3 separate regions of the Homo sapiens genome follow, and all the other regions are reported to be linked to region 2. The links are microRNA targets in miRTarBase. Many come from high-throughput screens and were not tested one by one. Region 2 holds a microRNA gene; each other region holds the end of a gene's coding sequence.

What was found. Region 2 holds the annotated microRNA hsa-miR-4319 (UCCCUGAGCAAAGCCAC, at 3,128-3,144, shown strand). A microRNA usually pairs through its seed, bases 2 to 8, with sites in the 3' UTR of a target mRNA and lowers its output. Matches are read on the target gene's strand: a 7mer-m8 pairs with bases 2 to 8, a 7mer-A1 pairs with bases 2 to 7 and ends in A, and an 8mer does both.
Region 1: miRTarBase lists SH3BP5L as a target of hsa-miR-4319. Seed matches in the 3' UTR shown: 8mer at 3,472-3,479 and 7mer-A1 at 3,143-3,149.
Region 3: miRTarBase lists SEC14L3 as a target of hsa-miR-4319. The part of its 3' UTR that is shown has no 7-base or 8-base seed match.

What each region holds. Positions count from the first base shown.
Region 1 is chr1:248,808,081-248,812,264 of GRCh38, forward strand. SH3BP5L (SH3 binding domain protein 5 like) reads right to left here. Exons shown (of 7, transcript NM_030645.3): 7 at 2,366-4,184. The coding sequence ends at 3,820. Among named protein-coding and RNA genes, the nearest start is that of SH3BP5L, 16 kb to the right of the region's middle.
Region 2 is chr18:44,969,100-44,973,283 of GRCh38, reverse strand. It overlaps MIR4319 (microRNA 4319), which reads left to right and starts at 3,118; the gene lies at 3,118-3,202. The region is part of intron 4 of SETBP1 (SET binding protein 1); the gene reads right to left.
Region 3 is chr22:30,456,623-30,460,622 of GRCh38, forward strand. It overlaps SEC14L3 (SEC14 like lipid binding 3), which reads right to left. Exons shown (of 12, transcript NM_174975.5): 12 at 2,607-3,520. The coding sequence ends at 3,399. Among named protein-coding and RNA genes, the nearest start is that of SEC14L3, 13 kb to the right of the region's middle.

The DNA.
Region 1 (4,184 bases), not on the chromosome of region 2:
TAAATTTTTAAAAAGGCAGTGGGGTTGTCATGCTTGTCAAAAATCATATCCAGATGAGGAGGGAAACACAACCCTTTCATAGAGTCCACTTGCCTAGCGCAAGATGGGATGAAGCCTCCGTGAGTTAAGCACTCCGAGGCTGTGAAGAGGTGCTAACAGGAATCGCTGCACCTCAGATCCACTGATGTAGCAGCATGCCACACATGCCTCTATGCTCCCATTTTATAGGCGATAAAATTGAAGCGTCATGAAATTTGAGAATTCCCATAGAGATGTGATCCTGGGATTGTGCATCACCAGGTCCTGACCTCCAAACTGCTGTACTGATAAACCCACCTGATACAGCTGTGGGCTAAGAGAAGGGGCAAGAAGCAAAAGCACATTTCCTGAGCATCTGTTGGTGAGAGCCTGTGTCAGGTGTTGGGTAGACTGAGGCCCCAGCCCCACACTTGAGGAAGATGAAGATCAGAACAATTCATTACCAACAGGCCAATGTAACATGTAACATGACACAGTACAGGAATGGGGGATGGGGCCCTATGTCCCCCACACCTTGACCATCTCTTCCTCACCTTAAACAAAATTTCTCGACCCTCTTTGCTGGGAGAAGGAGCTAAGAAACAGTATTCCCACTTCTCATCTCTTCTTCCCAGCAAAACTTCCTCGGAGATGACTACCTCCACTTCCTCACCTCCTGTTCCTGTGAGCCCAGTGGTTCAAGCGTTTGGACTCTAGAGTCCAAGTGCCTAGTGGGAGCCGCCTCCGTTACCTTCAGCAAGGCTGAGTACCCCCCATTGTGCCTTATTTTCTTACCGTGGAAAGGAAATCATAGTGTTTATCTGTCCTATAACATTGTTGTAGAGATTAATTAGGGGCGTTCCTGGTACGTGAAATGCACTGGATGAGTACAAGTTACTACAACGAGGGTGGGAGGGAGGGAGCTCTTCGGCTTCTGTCTTCTTCTCCTTAGAAGTACCATTGGCTCTAACCTTCCTGGTCTCTCTTCCCGCCTGCCGCATCTTCTAGGTGATTTTGCAAGGAGAAACGCACGTGCATGGCATAGCCCTTCTTTTCTAGGGCTCTTCTGTACCAGGAGCCTCACAGGTCCTGCCTGCCAGTGACTGGGTAGGGAAGTCCAGCACTGTGTGTCATCTCAGAAAGCCCTTCATTAGGACTATAATACTGTATTATAGACTGAAAATTTGCTGAGAGTAGATTTTAGGCGGTTTCACAACAAAAAAGGGGGGAGGTAACTGCAAAATGATAGGCCAATTTGATACCTATTTCATTATGTGCATCAAAATACCATGTTGTTCACCTCCTATACATACAATTTAAAAAATTTAAAAAGCCCACTCACCCAAAAACATATGCTATGCATTTTCATAGCAGCTTTTCTAGTAATAAAATATTATGACACCCATCTGCCAAGTCAGGGAAGGCAATCTCAAACTCCTGGACAGCACCCATCCAAAGGCACAGTGAGTGCTCAGCACATAGCGGCCCCAGATGGCCCCTCAGATGGCGTCCACAGCCACCAGGGTCACTGCTCTGATTGCGTGCCTCCAATTCTTGGCCTTCACCCTGCCCCTTGACCCCAAGGTTTCTGGTCTTCCTCCCTGCCAGCACCTTCTTCTTCCCTTGGCTGACCTCTTCTCAACAAAACTCCAAATACTGGTACACTCCAAGTGCAGCTCAGGCTAAACAAAGCCTTTTGCTCTTCTTCAAAGCTCCTGGAGTTCACATCCCTATCCAATCTCCCACCTGTGAGTTCAAGTGCCCTCAAACCCCTCCCATCCCCCAGCCAGTCAAGCCCTGACTTGGAAGTCACCTTTTATCTAGGTTTTAATTTCAGAGAAACAACGGATAATTCATAATGTAAGTACATCCTAAACACTGCAGCAGACAAAAATACTGCCTATCTGAAATTTCAGTGGGTTCACTGTATTGATAAATCTGGCATCACTACTTGTGTCCCTTCTCTACATTCATGCTCACATCCAGACACATCTAAGATCCCAACCCTCTGGCACTCTCATCTCTTAGCTCAGACAGAGCCCACTCCACCCCGCAGGCCCCTTTCTACCAAACCCTCTCCTGGCACCCATCACCTCACACAGCATGGCCCCATGAGGCACCAACTCCTCCCCTGCTTCTCTACACTTGCCCTGTACATGACCACCCTGGCCATGGGGCCTTCCACCCCCGCAAGAGCATGCATAGCGCAGCTCACTCAATCTGGTCCTTCACCTCCCTTCCCTGACCACACCATCTAAAAAGCCTGCCGCCTAACCCTGCTCTTCCCTTGCCCAACCCTTGCCTCATCTTTGCCCCTTTTCTCTTCCTCCAGCAAGGACAGTAGATGTTAACTGTTACATAAACTACTTTATTTAAATAAAACCAGGAAAGACCCTTTCCCCCTTACACACCAGCACATGCACACACGCACACCCACACCCTCCCTCCCTTTCGGCTGTCTGCCCATGGCCACCTCAAACCCCGAGGTTCTCATTGTGACCAACCTCCCTCAACCTGTAGACCCCCGTGCAGAGTCCAGTTGCCCACGCATCCCGGTTGCTGGCAGAACATGGGCCTAGAAAAGAGCACTCCATCTTCCTGGGGTGGGTCAAAAGGAAGGACTGGTTCTCCCAAGGCACCCAGATCTGGTGTGGCTTCCCTACAAACTGGGAGCACTGCCAGGCAGCTGGAGCTGCTCCCTGCGGAGGGCAGAACTTTTCACCCCAAGCCAACCCCTCCCTGTAACAAAGGAAGTAAGAGGGTTGGCAGCCAAGCTTCAGTGTGCCCCGAGGGATCCTGCAGTAGGTATTTTCAGTTTGGGGAAGAGCAAGGGAGAGCAATTGAGCACCAAATTCCCTAACCCCGTCCTGCAGGAGGGTGCTGAGTCAGTTCAGCATCCTCTACCCAGAAAAAGTAAACACAACTGTGCAGCAAGAGTGAGGGTGGGAATGACAGGGGCCTAAGCCTTCAGGACCTCATGACTTCACCCCCAACATGGGCCCTCTTAGGGACCCACTAGCACCTTGGCAATGTTGAGGACCCAGCCCAGCGGAAACACCATACCCACAGGAGCCAGTCTGGAGTTGGTGATGCTCCCTATGTTGACAGTGGGGTTGGGTTTCTCTCCCTGACACCAGCTTCCTGCAGGCCCTGTAAGTTCTGCTTTGGGGCACACATCGCAGAGTGCCTCAGGTCATGAAAGGGAATGCTGAAGGGAAAGGTGGTGTCTTCCGGAGGCACACAGTACATCTTACAGGTTACACACGGGCAGGCTGGAGCAGGACGGGGGGCAGGGCTCAGCAGCATACCTAGGGTACCCTCCAGAGTTGCCTTGGGAAGGGGGGCGGGGCTGGAAACCAACGGGAGGGGTGACTGTCCATCCCCTCCGACGGGAGTACTCAGGCCCAGCACCCATTTTCTCTGATGAGCTTCCCAGTGCCTTCTAGACCAAGTTCCCTGAGGGAAAAAGCCAAACAGATGGAAAGAGAGGGAGCAGAAAGGGAAAGCAAAGGGTCAATGCCCTGCAGATCGTGATGAGCTGGCAGGCAGAGGCAGACAGAGCGCCGAGGGCGAGCCTTCTGAATGGGTAAGGCAAAGAGAGCCGCCTGCTGAGGGGAAGGGGGAGGCTGTGAGAACGCCAGGGCAGGCACAGAGGACTCGAACACAGCTGGCCTCTCCCAGGGAAGCACTGGAGAAGGGGACCTTCGGGAAGACGAGGCCCCAGAGGAGAGGGCGTGAGAAGACTGTGGGCCCCAACCGGCCCGTGGTGGCAGATTCAAGCCAGGAACCCTGGCCCCTCGGCTACAGGCTGACGCTGCGCTGGTGCCGACCCCCACGGGCTCCGCCGTCGCTGCCCCGGCGCCCTCCACTCCGCGTTCCCAGCTCTTGGCCGTCCAGACTGACGTGGTCCGAGAGGCCTCGCAAGTGCTCCACGGAGTCGCACTTCTGCAGGTCTGAAGCCACCGTGCGCAGGCTCAGCAGACTCAGGGTATCGGTGTCGGGGGCGGGGCCGGGCCCCAGGCTGCTGCCCTCCTCCAGCCCCGCACCCTCGGCCCCCTCAATCCCGCTGTCTCCGTCCTCCATGTCCTCGGGTCCTGCCTCGGCCCCCACGGGGGAGGAGCGCCGAGGGCCCAGGGGGTGGGGAGGCAGACCCCCGCGGCGCCGTG
Region 2 (4,184 bases):
TATTGGCAAACCGAATCCAGCAGCACATCAAAAAGCTTATCCACCATGATCAAGTGGGCTTCATCCTTGGGATGCAAGGCTGGTTCAACATATGCAAATCAATAAACATAATCCAGCATATAAAGAGAACCAACGACAAAAACCAGATGATTATCTCAATAGATGCAGAAAAGGCCTTTGACAAAATTCAACTACCCTTTATGCTAAAAACTCTCAATAAATTAGGTATTGATGGGACGGATCTCAAAATAATGACAGCTATCTATGACAAACCCACAGCCAATATCATACTCAATAGGCAAAAACTGGAAGCATTCCCTTTGAAAACTGGCACAAGACAGGGATGCCCTCTCTCACCACTCCTATTCAACACAGTGTTGGAAGTTCTGGCCAGGGCAATCAGTCAGGAAAAGGAAATAAAGGGTATTCAACTAGGAAAAGAGGAAGTCAAATTGTCCCTGTCTGCAGATGACATGTTTGTATATGTAGAAAACCCCATCATCTCAGCCCAAAATCTCCTTAAGCTGATAGGCAACTTCAGCAAAGTCTCTGGATACAAAATCGATGTGAAAAAATCACAAGCATTCTTAAACACCAATAACAGACAAACAGAGAGCCAAATCATGAGTGAACTCCCATTCACAATTGCTTCAAGGAGAATAAAATACCTAGGAATCCAACTTACAAGGGATGTGAAGGATCTCTTCAGGGAGAACTACAAACCACTGCTCAATGAAATAAAAGAGGATACAAACAAATAGAAGAACATTCCATGCTCATGGGTAGGAAGAATCAATATCTTGAAAATGGCCATACTGCCCGAGGTAATTTCTAGATTCAATGCCATCCTCCTCAAGCTACCAATGACTTTCTTGACAGAATTGGAAAAAACTACTTTAAAGTTCATATGCAACCAAAAAAGAGCCCGCATCGCCAAGTCAATCCTAAGCCAAAAGAACAAAGCTGGAGGCATCACACTACCTGACTTCAAACTATACTGCAAGGCTACAGTAACCAAAACAGCATGGGACTGGTACCAAAACAGAGATATAGACCAATGGAACAGGACAGAGCCCTCAGAAATAATGCCACATATCTACAACTATCTGATCTTTGACAAACCTGACAAAAATAAGAAATGGGGAAAGGATTCCCTATTTAATAAATGGTGCTGGGAAAACTGGCTAGCCATATGTAGAAAGCTGAAACTGGATCCCTTCCTTACACCTTATACAAAAATTAATTCAAGATGCATAAAGACTTAAATGTTAGACCTAAAACCATAAAAACCCTAGAAGAAAACCTAGGCAATACCATTCAGGACATAGGCACGGGCAAGGACTTCATGTCTAAAACACCAAAAGCAATGGCAACAAAAGCCAAAATTGACAAATGGGATCTAATTAAACTAAAGAGCTTCTGCACAGCAAAAGAAACTACCATCAGAGTGAACAGGCAACCTACAGAATGGGAGAAAATTTTTGCAATCTACTCATCTGACAAAGGGCTAATAGCCAGAATCTACAATGAACTCAAACAAATTTACAAGGAAAAAACAAACAACCCCATCAAAAAGTGGGCAAAGGATATGAACAGACACTTCTCAAAAGAAGATATTTATGCAGCCAAAAGACATGTGAAAAAATGCTCGTCATCACTGGTCATCAGAGAAATGCAAATCAAAACCACAGTGAGATACCATCTCACACCAGTTAGAATGGCGATCATTAAAAAGTCAGGAAACAACAGTTGCTGGAGAGGATGTGGAGAAATAGGAACACTTTTACACTGTTGGTGGGAGTGTAAACTAGTTCAACCATTGTGGAAGTCGGTGTGGCGATTCCTCAGGGATCTAGAACTAGAAATACCATTTGACCCAGCCATCCCATTTCTGGGTATATACCCAAAGGATTATAAAACATGCTGCTATAAAGACACATGCACACATATGTTTACTGTGGCACTAGTCACAATAGCAAAGACTTGGAACCAACCCAAATGTCCAACAATGATAGACTGGATTAAGAAAATGTGGCACATATACACCATGGAATACTATGCAGCCATAAAAAATGATGAGTTCGTGTCCTTTGTAGGGACATGGATGAAGCTGGAAACCATCATTCTGAGCAAACTATCACAAGGACAAAAAACCAAACACCGCATGTTCTCACTCATAGGTGGGAATTGAACAATGAGAATACATGGACACTGGAAGGGGAACATCACACACTGGGGCCTGTTGTGGGGTGGGGGAAGGGGAGAGGGGGGAGGCATAGCATTAGGAGATATACCTAATGTTAAATGAAGAGTTAATGGGTTGCAGCACACCAACATGGCACATGTATACATATGTAACAAACCTGCACGTTGTGCACATGTACCCTAATACTTAAAGTATAATTAAAAAAAAAAAGAAAAGAAAACAAGCCCAGCCGGGTGCGGTCGCTCAGGCCTGTAATCCCAGCACTTTGGGAGGCCGAGGCAGGTGGATCACTTGAGTTCAGGAGTTCGAGACCAGCCTGACCAACATGGTGAAACCCTGTCTCTACTAAAAATACAAAATTAGCTGGGTGTGGTGGCACGTGCCTGTAATCCCAGCTACTTGGAAGGCTGAGGCAGGAGAATCGTTTGAACCCAGGAAGTGGAGGTTGCAGTAAGCCGAGATCGCCCCATTTCACTGCAGCCTGGGGAACAAGAGCAACACTCTGTTCCAAAAAAAAAAGGCCTGTGCATTTGTAATTATACCAACAGTGATGTATTCTATTGAAAACCAACTAGAATCGTTGTAAACAAAATATGAAATAAAGGTTGGTATACTATAGGTGTTCAATACATTAATAATAATCATTAATAACCACTAACATTTATGGTATATTTTCTATGAGTCAGGCATTCTGCTACATATAGGTACATATGCTACAACTTTATAAGCAGACACACCCCGTGAGTTACTAACTACTATTATCTCTATTTTGGATTTGCAAACACAGGCAGAGGTTGTTTAAATCACTTGCACAAGGCTGCCTGGCTGGATCTCTTTGGTCAGTCTCTTTCTTTTCCCATTTCCTTTCGGTGATAACTCACTGTACTAAGTCAGAGCCCATCATCACCTTTTTGGCTTGAGTCCCTGAGCAAAGCCACTGGGAATGCTCCCTGAGGACGTTATATGAGTGCTCAGCTCATGGGGCTATGATGGTCAAAGGAGAAAATGCACATGAATGTATTTTGAAAAATATGTCACTATCACGGAGCAGCCAAAATAACCAGATAAGGAGAATTAGGATTCTTTGACTCAAGGGCAGCAATAGGTTCAGGACATCTGCTTGCCTATGTGACCTCAAGTGGACATTATTTGGGGTTTTTCCAGGTGCACCTACACCTAAGGCCACACTGCTCTGCCTGCTGCAACAAAGTTTAAGGGGAGTGTTGTGTAGGTGGAATGAGGAGGTCAGCTATACACAGAAGAGGAGGCAGTGCAAGAAGCGGTAGAGTTTGATCTTCAGAATCATTTCACTTTCCAAACAATCAGGAGGATGTTGTGAGGGGTTGGGTAAAACTTCCTCTAGGCACAGAGCTATTAAATCACAGCTTCCTGGAGTTGGTACTTGGTGTAGGAGGGACAGATGGGGTTTCACAAATAAAGTCAAACCTAGAACCTAGCCATGGAAGTGCGCCTGCTTTTCTTGGGGCTGTTTCTCTAGCATGCCCTCAGCAGAATCAACATGAAAGGTCCCAACCTAAAGTCCCTCCTTTATTTGCATAAGAATATCTCTAAATGCTGAGATTTATAACTTCACAGGAAAGGCTTGGGAAGGAGGGAAAAGCTTAAAAGAACATTCTGTGTAGAGTTATGATGCTGCCAACAGTTCGTGGGTTGGACAGGGCACTGCGTTCCTAAAGATTAGACATAACTGAGGGCTTTTTCTTCTTTTTTAATAACAAGGAAATACAAATCCTCCCCTCTTGTCAGACTCTCAATTCTTCAGACGTTTTGTATCATTTTCCCCATTCAAGAGTAGCATTGAACTGAAGGGAAATTAGAAAAACTGCAGCTTTCTTCCCCCGCCTTGAAACCAAAGGAATGTAAAGATATCGAGTTTAGCTTTCTAATTACATTTCTGAGACTTCTATTTTTTAATGAGAGAAAGAATTTCAGTGGATATGAGGAGAAAGCACATGTT
Region 3 (4,000 bases), not on the chromosome of region 2:
ATGACCCAAACACCTCCCACTAGGCCCCACCTCCAACATCGGGGGCCACATTTCCTCCTGAGATTTGGAGGGGACAAATATCCAAACTCTATTAGTGACCATTGGCCAAAGCTACAAAGTGGGTCTCTTTCCTTCCCCAATGCTGCCTCCTGGAGATTCAGGACTGGAGCTGAGCATCTAGACCCTGAGTAAGACTGGAGGCTAGAAGCTGGAGCTTGGGAAGCCTGCCTCTTACTGGCTGTGTGCACACAGTGGGAGCTGGCTTGCCAGGGGTGGGCATCAGCGGATGCTGATGGGCACTTTGCAGATCTCAGCTCTGGCCCTGGCCTTAGGTTCTTTGCACTGCTCCACCTCCTGGTGCAAGTCCCCTCCACTCAGCTGCCACAGAGGAGCTCTGGCAACAGCACTGCTCATCTTAGTCCCAAAGGCACAAAGGGTCCACACTCTCTACCTCAGACCCTGCTTCAACATCGAGGCCTTTCCTTTGGTGGTCAAGGGTGAGACCACCCTGTCCCCCGACCCTGCATCACCCACACTAAGCCATCCTCTCCCAAGGATTCCATGACATCATTGGCCCAAATTGTGGGTGCTGCCACCGTCTTCCAAGAAGGTGAACCCATCCCCCTCTTTCCATCCTCCTCCCTTTCCTCTCTCTTCCCTCCATCTTCCCTCATTGGTAGGATTGTCAGATAAAATATAAGATGCATAGGTCAATTTTAATTTTAGATAAACAATGGATACATTTTAAGTATGTCTTTTTTTTTTTTTTTTTTTTTTTTAGATGGAGTCTTGCTCTGTTGCTCAGGCTGGAGTGCAGTGGTGTGATCTCAGCCCACTGCAATCTCCACCTCCTGGATTCAAGAGATTCTCATGCCTCAGCCTTCTGAGGAGCTGAGATTACAGGTATGTGCTACCTCCCCAGGCTAAATTTTGTATTTTTAGTAGAGACGGGGTTTCACCACATTGGCCAAGCTGGTCTCGAACTCCTGACGTCAAGTGATCCGCCTGCCTTGGCCTCCTAAAGTGTTGGGATTATAGGCATGAGCCACTGCACCTGGCCATGCTTTTTTTTTTTTTTCCTTTCTAAATCTGACAACCCTCATTTTCTCTTCTCTTCCTTCCTTTTTCCTTTCTCCTTCCTCCTCCCTCCTCCTTCCCTGCCAGCTCAGGAAGAAGGCAGTCTTGTCCCATTCTGACAAATTGTTATAGAAGAGTGGTGGGGGTGAAGAGGTGACGGGGTAAGGGGCAGCCTTAGCTCCAGGACTATTTCTGTCACCTGTAGGCTGAAGATACAAGGCCAGTGCCTTTGGGAGCTCAGTTTCCCATCTATAAAGCAGATATCAGATTTTGCACCCATAAGTGCATGTGGGAAAGTGCTTGCTGCTGCTGAATATTTGCTTGACTAGCCTGAGTCAGACCTCATAGCCTGCCCACGGATGAGCTCAGCCCTCCGTTTGTTTGTTTCCAAGGAGCCTCTCATGGCACCAGCCTTTGGTTCCCATTCATCCCCATTCCCGGGTGTGATCCGGCTCCCCTGGCAAGAGTTGTGTCAGGGACTGGGGCTCAAGCCAGCCTCTTCACGTCCCCGAATCACAGCAGAAAGTTGGGAAGGAAACTCTGGAGTCCTGGCCTTTGCCCTAGTCACCCAGGGTCATGGTGAGCGTCAGGGGGTTGTGCTTCACAGATGCCATGTGAGCAGCGGACAGGATGCTGAGCTGAGGAACACAAGCCCTGCCCCACTCTGCTGTGAATTTCCTTGGACAAGCTGCTTCAGTATTGTGGGTCTCTATGGCCTATCACCTCCTCTACCCACAAACAGGGACTGGAGAGGGTGACATGCAGGACACTTCTACTGGAAGGTCTAGAACAAATAAATCATGCCTTCTCACTGCCTTTGTAAAAGTGGAATCTTAGGAGGTCATATTCTTACTATATTAAATTTTTTTGATAGAGATGTGGTCTTACTATGTTGCCCAGGCTGGTCTAAAACTCCTGGGCTCAAGCGATCCGCCCATCTCAGCCTCCCCAAGGGCTGGGATTATAGGCAGGAGGCGGTATTACAAGGCAACTGAGAGCAATGTCATTGGAGTAAACAAAGCAAAAACAGGCCAGGCATGGTGGCTGAGGCCTGTTATCCCAGCACTTTGGGAGGCTGATGGGGGGTAAATCACTTGAGGCCAGGAGCTTGAGACAACATGGGGAAACCCCATCTCTACAAAAAAATACAAAAAAATTAGCCAAGTGTGGTGATGCCCACCTGTAGTCCCAGCTACTCAGGAGGCTGAGGTGGGAGAATGGCTTGAGCCCAAGAGGTCAAGACTGCAGTGAGCCATGATTGTACCACTGCACTCCAGCCTGGGTGGGCGACAGAGCGAGACCCTGTCTCAAAAAACAAACAAACAAACAAATAAACAAACAAACGAACACCCCCTGCCCCAGGTCCTGGATCTGCCACCCAAGCTGTAAGATGTTGAGTGAGTAGCTTCACCCCTCTGAGCCTCCATTTCCTTATCCATAAAGGGCCTTGGGGATGGCATGAGAATAAAACATGCTAAACTCACAAAGCTCTTGGCACAGTTTCTGGTACACAGAGAGCACTCGCCAAATGATAGTTGTTTTCTTTATTATGATTATGCCAGATGTGACTGCCTTTGCTTCCAGGAAAGTCCCTAAAACATAAGCTATGTGCAACAAGGGAAGTGGGTTAGGGTGGGAAGCTGAGCGTGCAAGTCAGACAAAGCCTGATGTAGGCAGCTCCTATCAGAGGCATGTGGCCTTTGTGGCTGGGGCCCTCAAAAGACAGCCACTGCCAGAAATCTGGAGACTGAATTGTCTGGGTCTCCAGAAGAGAGTCCAACCCCACCACACATCTGCTCCTGTCCAAGGTGCTGAAATCCACCCCACATAGGCTCCTCCTAATCATGTACAGCTGTTGAGTCACCTGCACCCTACCTTCTGGTCCTCCATTCAATGCCACAAATATACACTGAGCATCTACTATATATAGGGAGTGGAAGTAAAAAGGATTTAGATATGTCTCCAACCCAAGTTGCTCACAGCCATACGGAAGGAATTCAAGCATACACACCTGCCTTAGGGTAGGTGAGGACAAAGGCTAGGGGATTCATTTTGCTATTTATTGAGTTTCATGACACCCACTTCTTGCCTTTACCCTTGCTTTTTCCTCTTCTGCAACCTTGGTACCCTCCAAGGTTGTGCCTCTCATACCTTTCTTGATCTGACCACAGTAGATGAGTTTTCCCCAGGGCATCTCTTTCTGTACTCACTAACGTCACAGAGTCAGGAGGACTAACAATCAATTTCAGGGAGGGAGGGAGTGTAGGATATAAACAGAGAAATCAAAGGGTTAGGAGGTCTCTGAGAAATGAGGGAGCCACCTAGACAGGGGTGAGCTCCTTATCATATTTCTGCATGCCCTCGTCAGGGAGCAGGACCTCCACTGTGAAGCTGACCTTCTTGGCGTGGACAAAGCTATAGGTGTTGTCGAAGCGTAGGACATCTGGGGGACAGATGGAAAGAGGGGCATTGGGCTTGGCTTTACACACTCTTTTTTCCACCCCTGGCCATGGAGGAGGACAGGCTTGTGTTCCCACTGGCTTTGTTTGCCAAGCTGGGCCAAGCTCCCACCACGCCTCTTCCCTTCCCCATGGGAACTGCCAACCCAAGCAGGTCCTGTAAACAGACACCAACCTCCTCTTGGCATGTGCCCAGGCATGGCTTTACTGGCATCGAGAACAATGGTCATTACATCCCATTGTCTCACACCTGGAGACGCACATGACGGGGCTGTGAAGGCACATGGTTGGGTTCATCAGAGACCTCCCAGCCCCCTTGGATGAAGTGGGGTTCTGGGGCAGGCCTGCTGGACACTGTTTGCCTCCTCACAACCACCCCAAAAAGCAGGTGTTGGCCGGGCACAGTGGCTCACACCTATAATCCCAGCATTTTGGGAGGCCAAGGTGGGTGGATCACTTGAGGT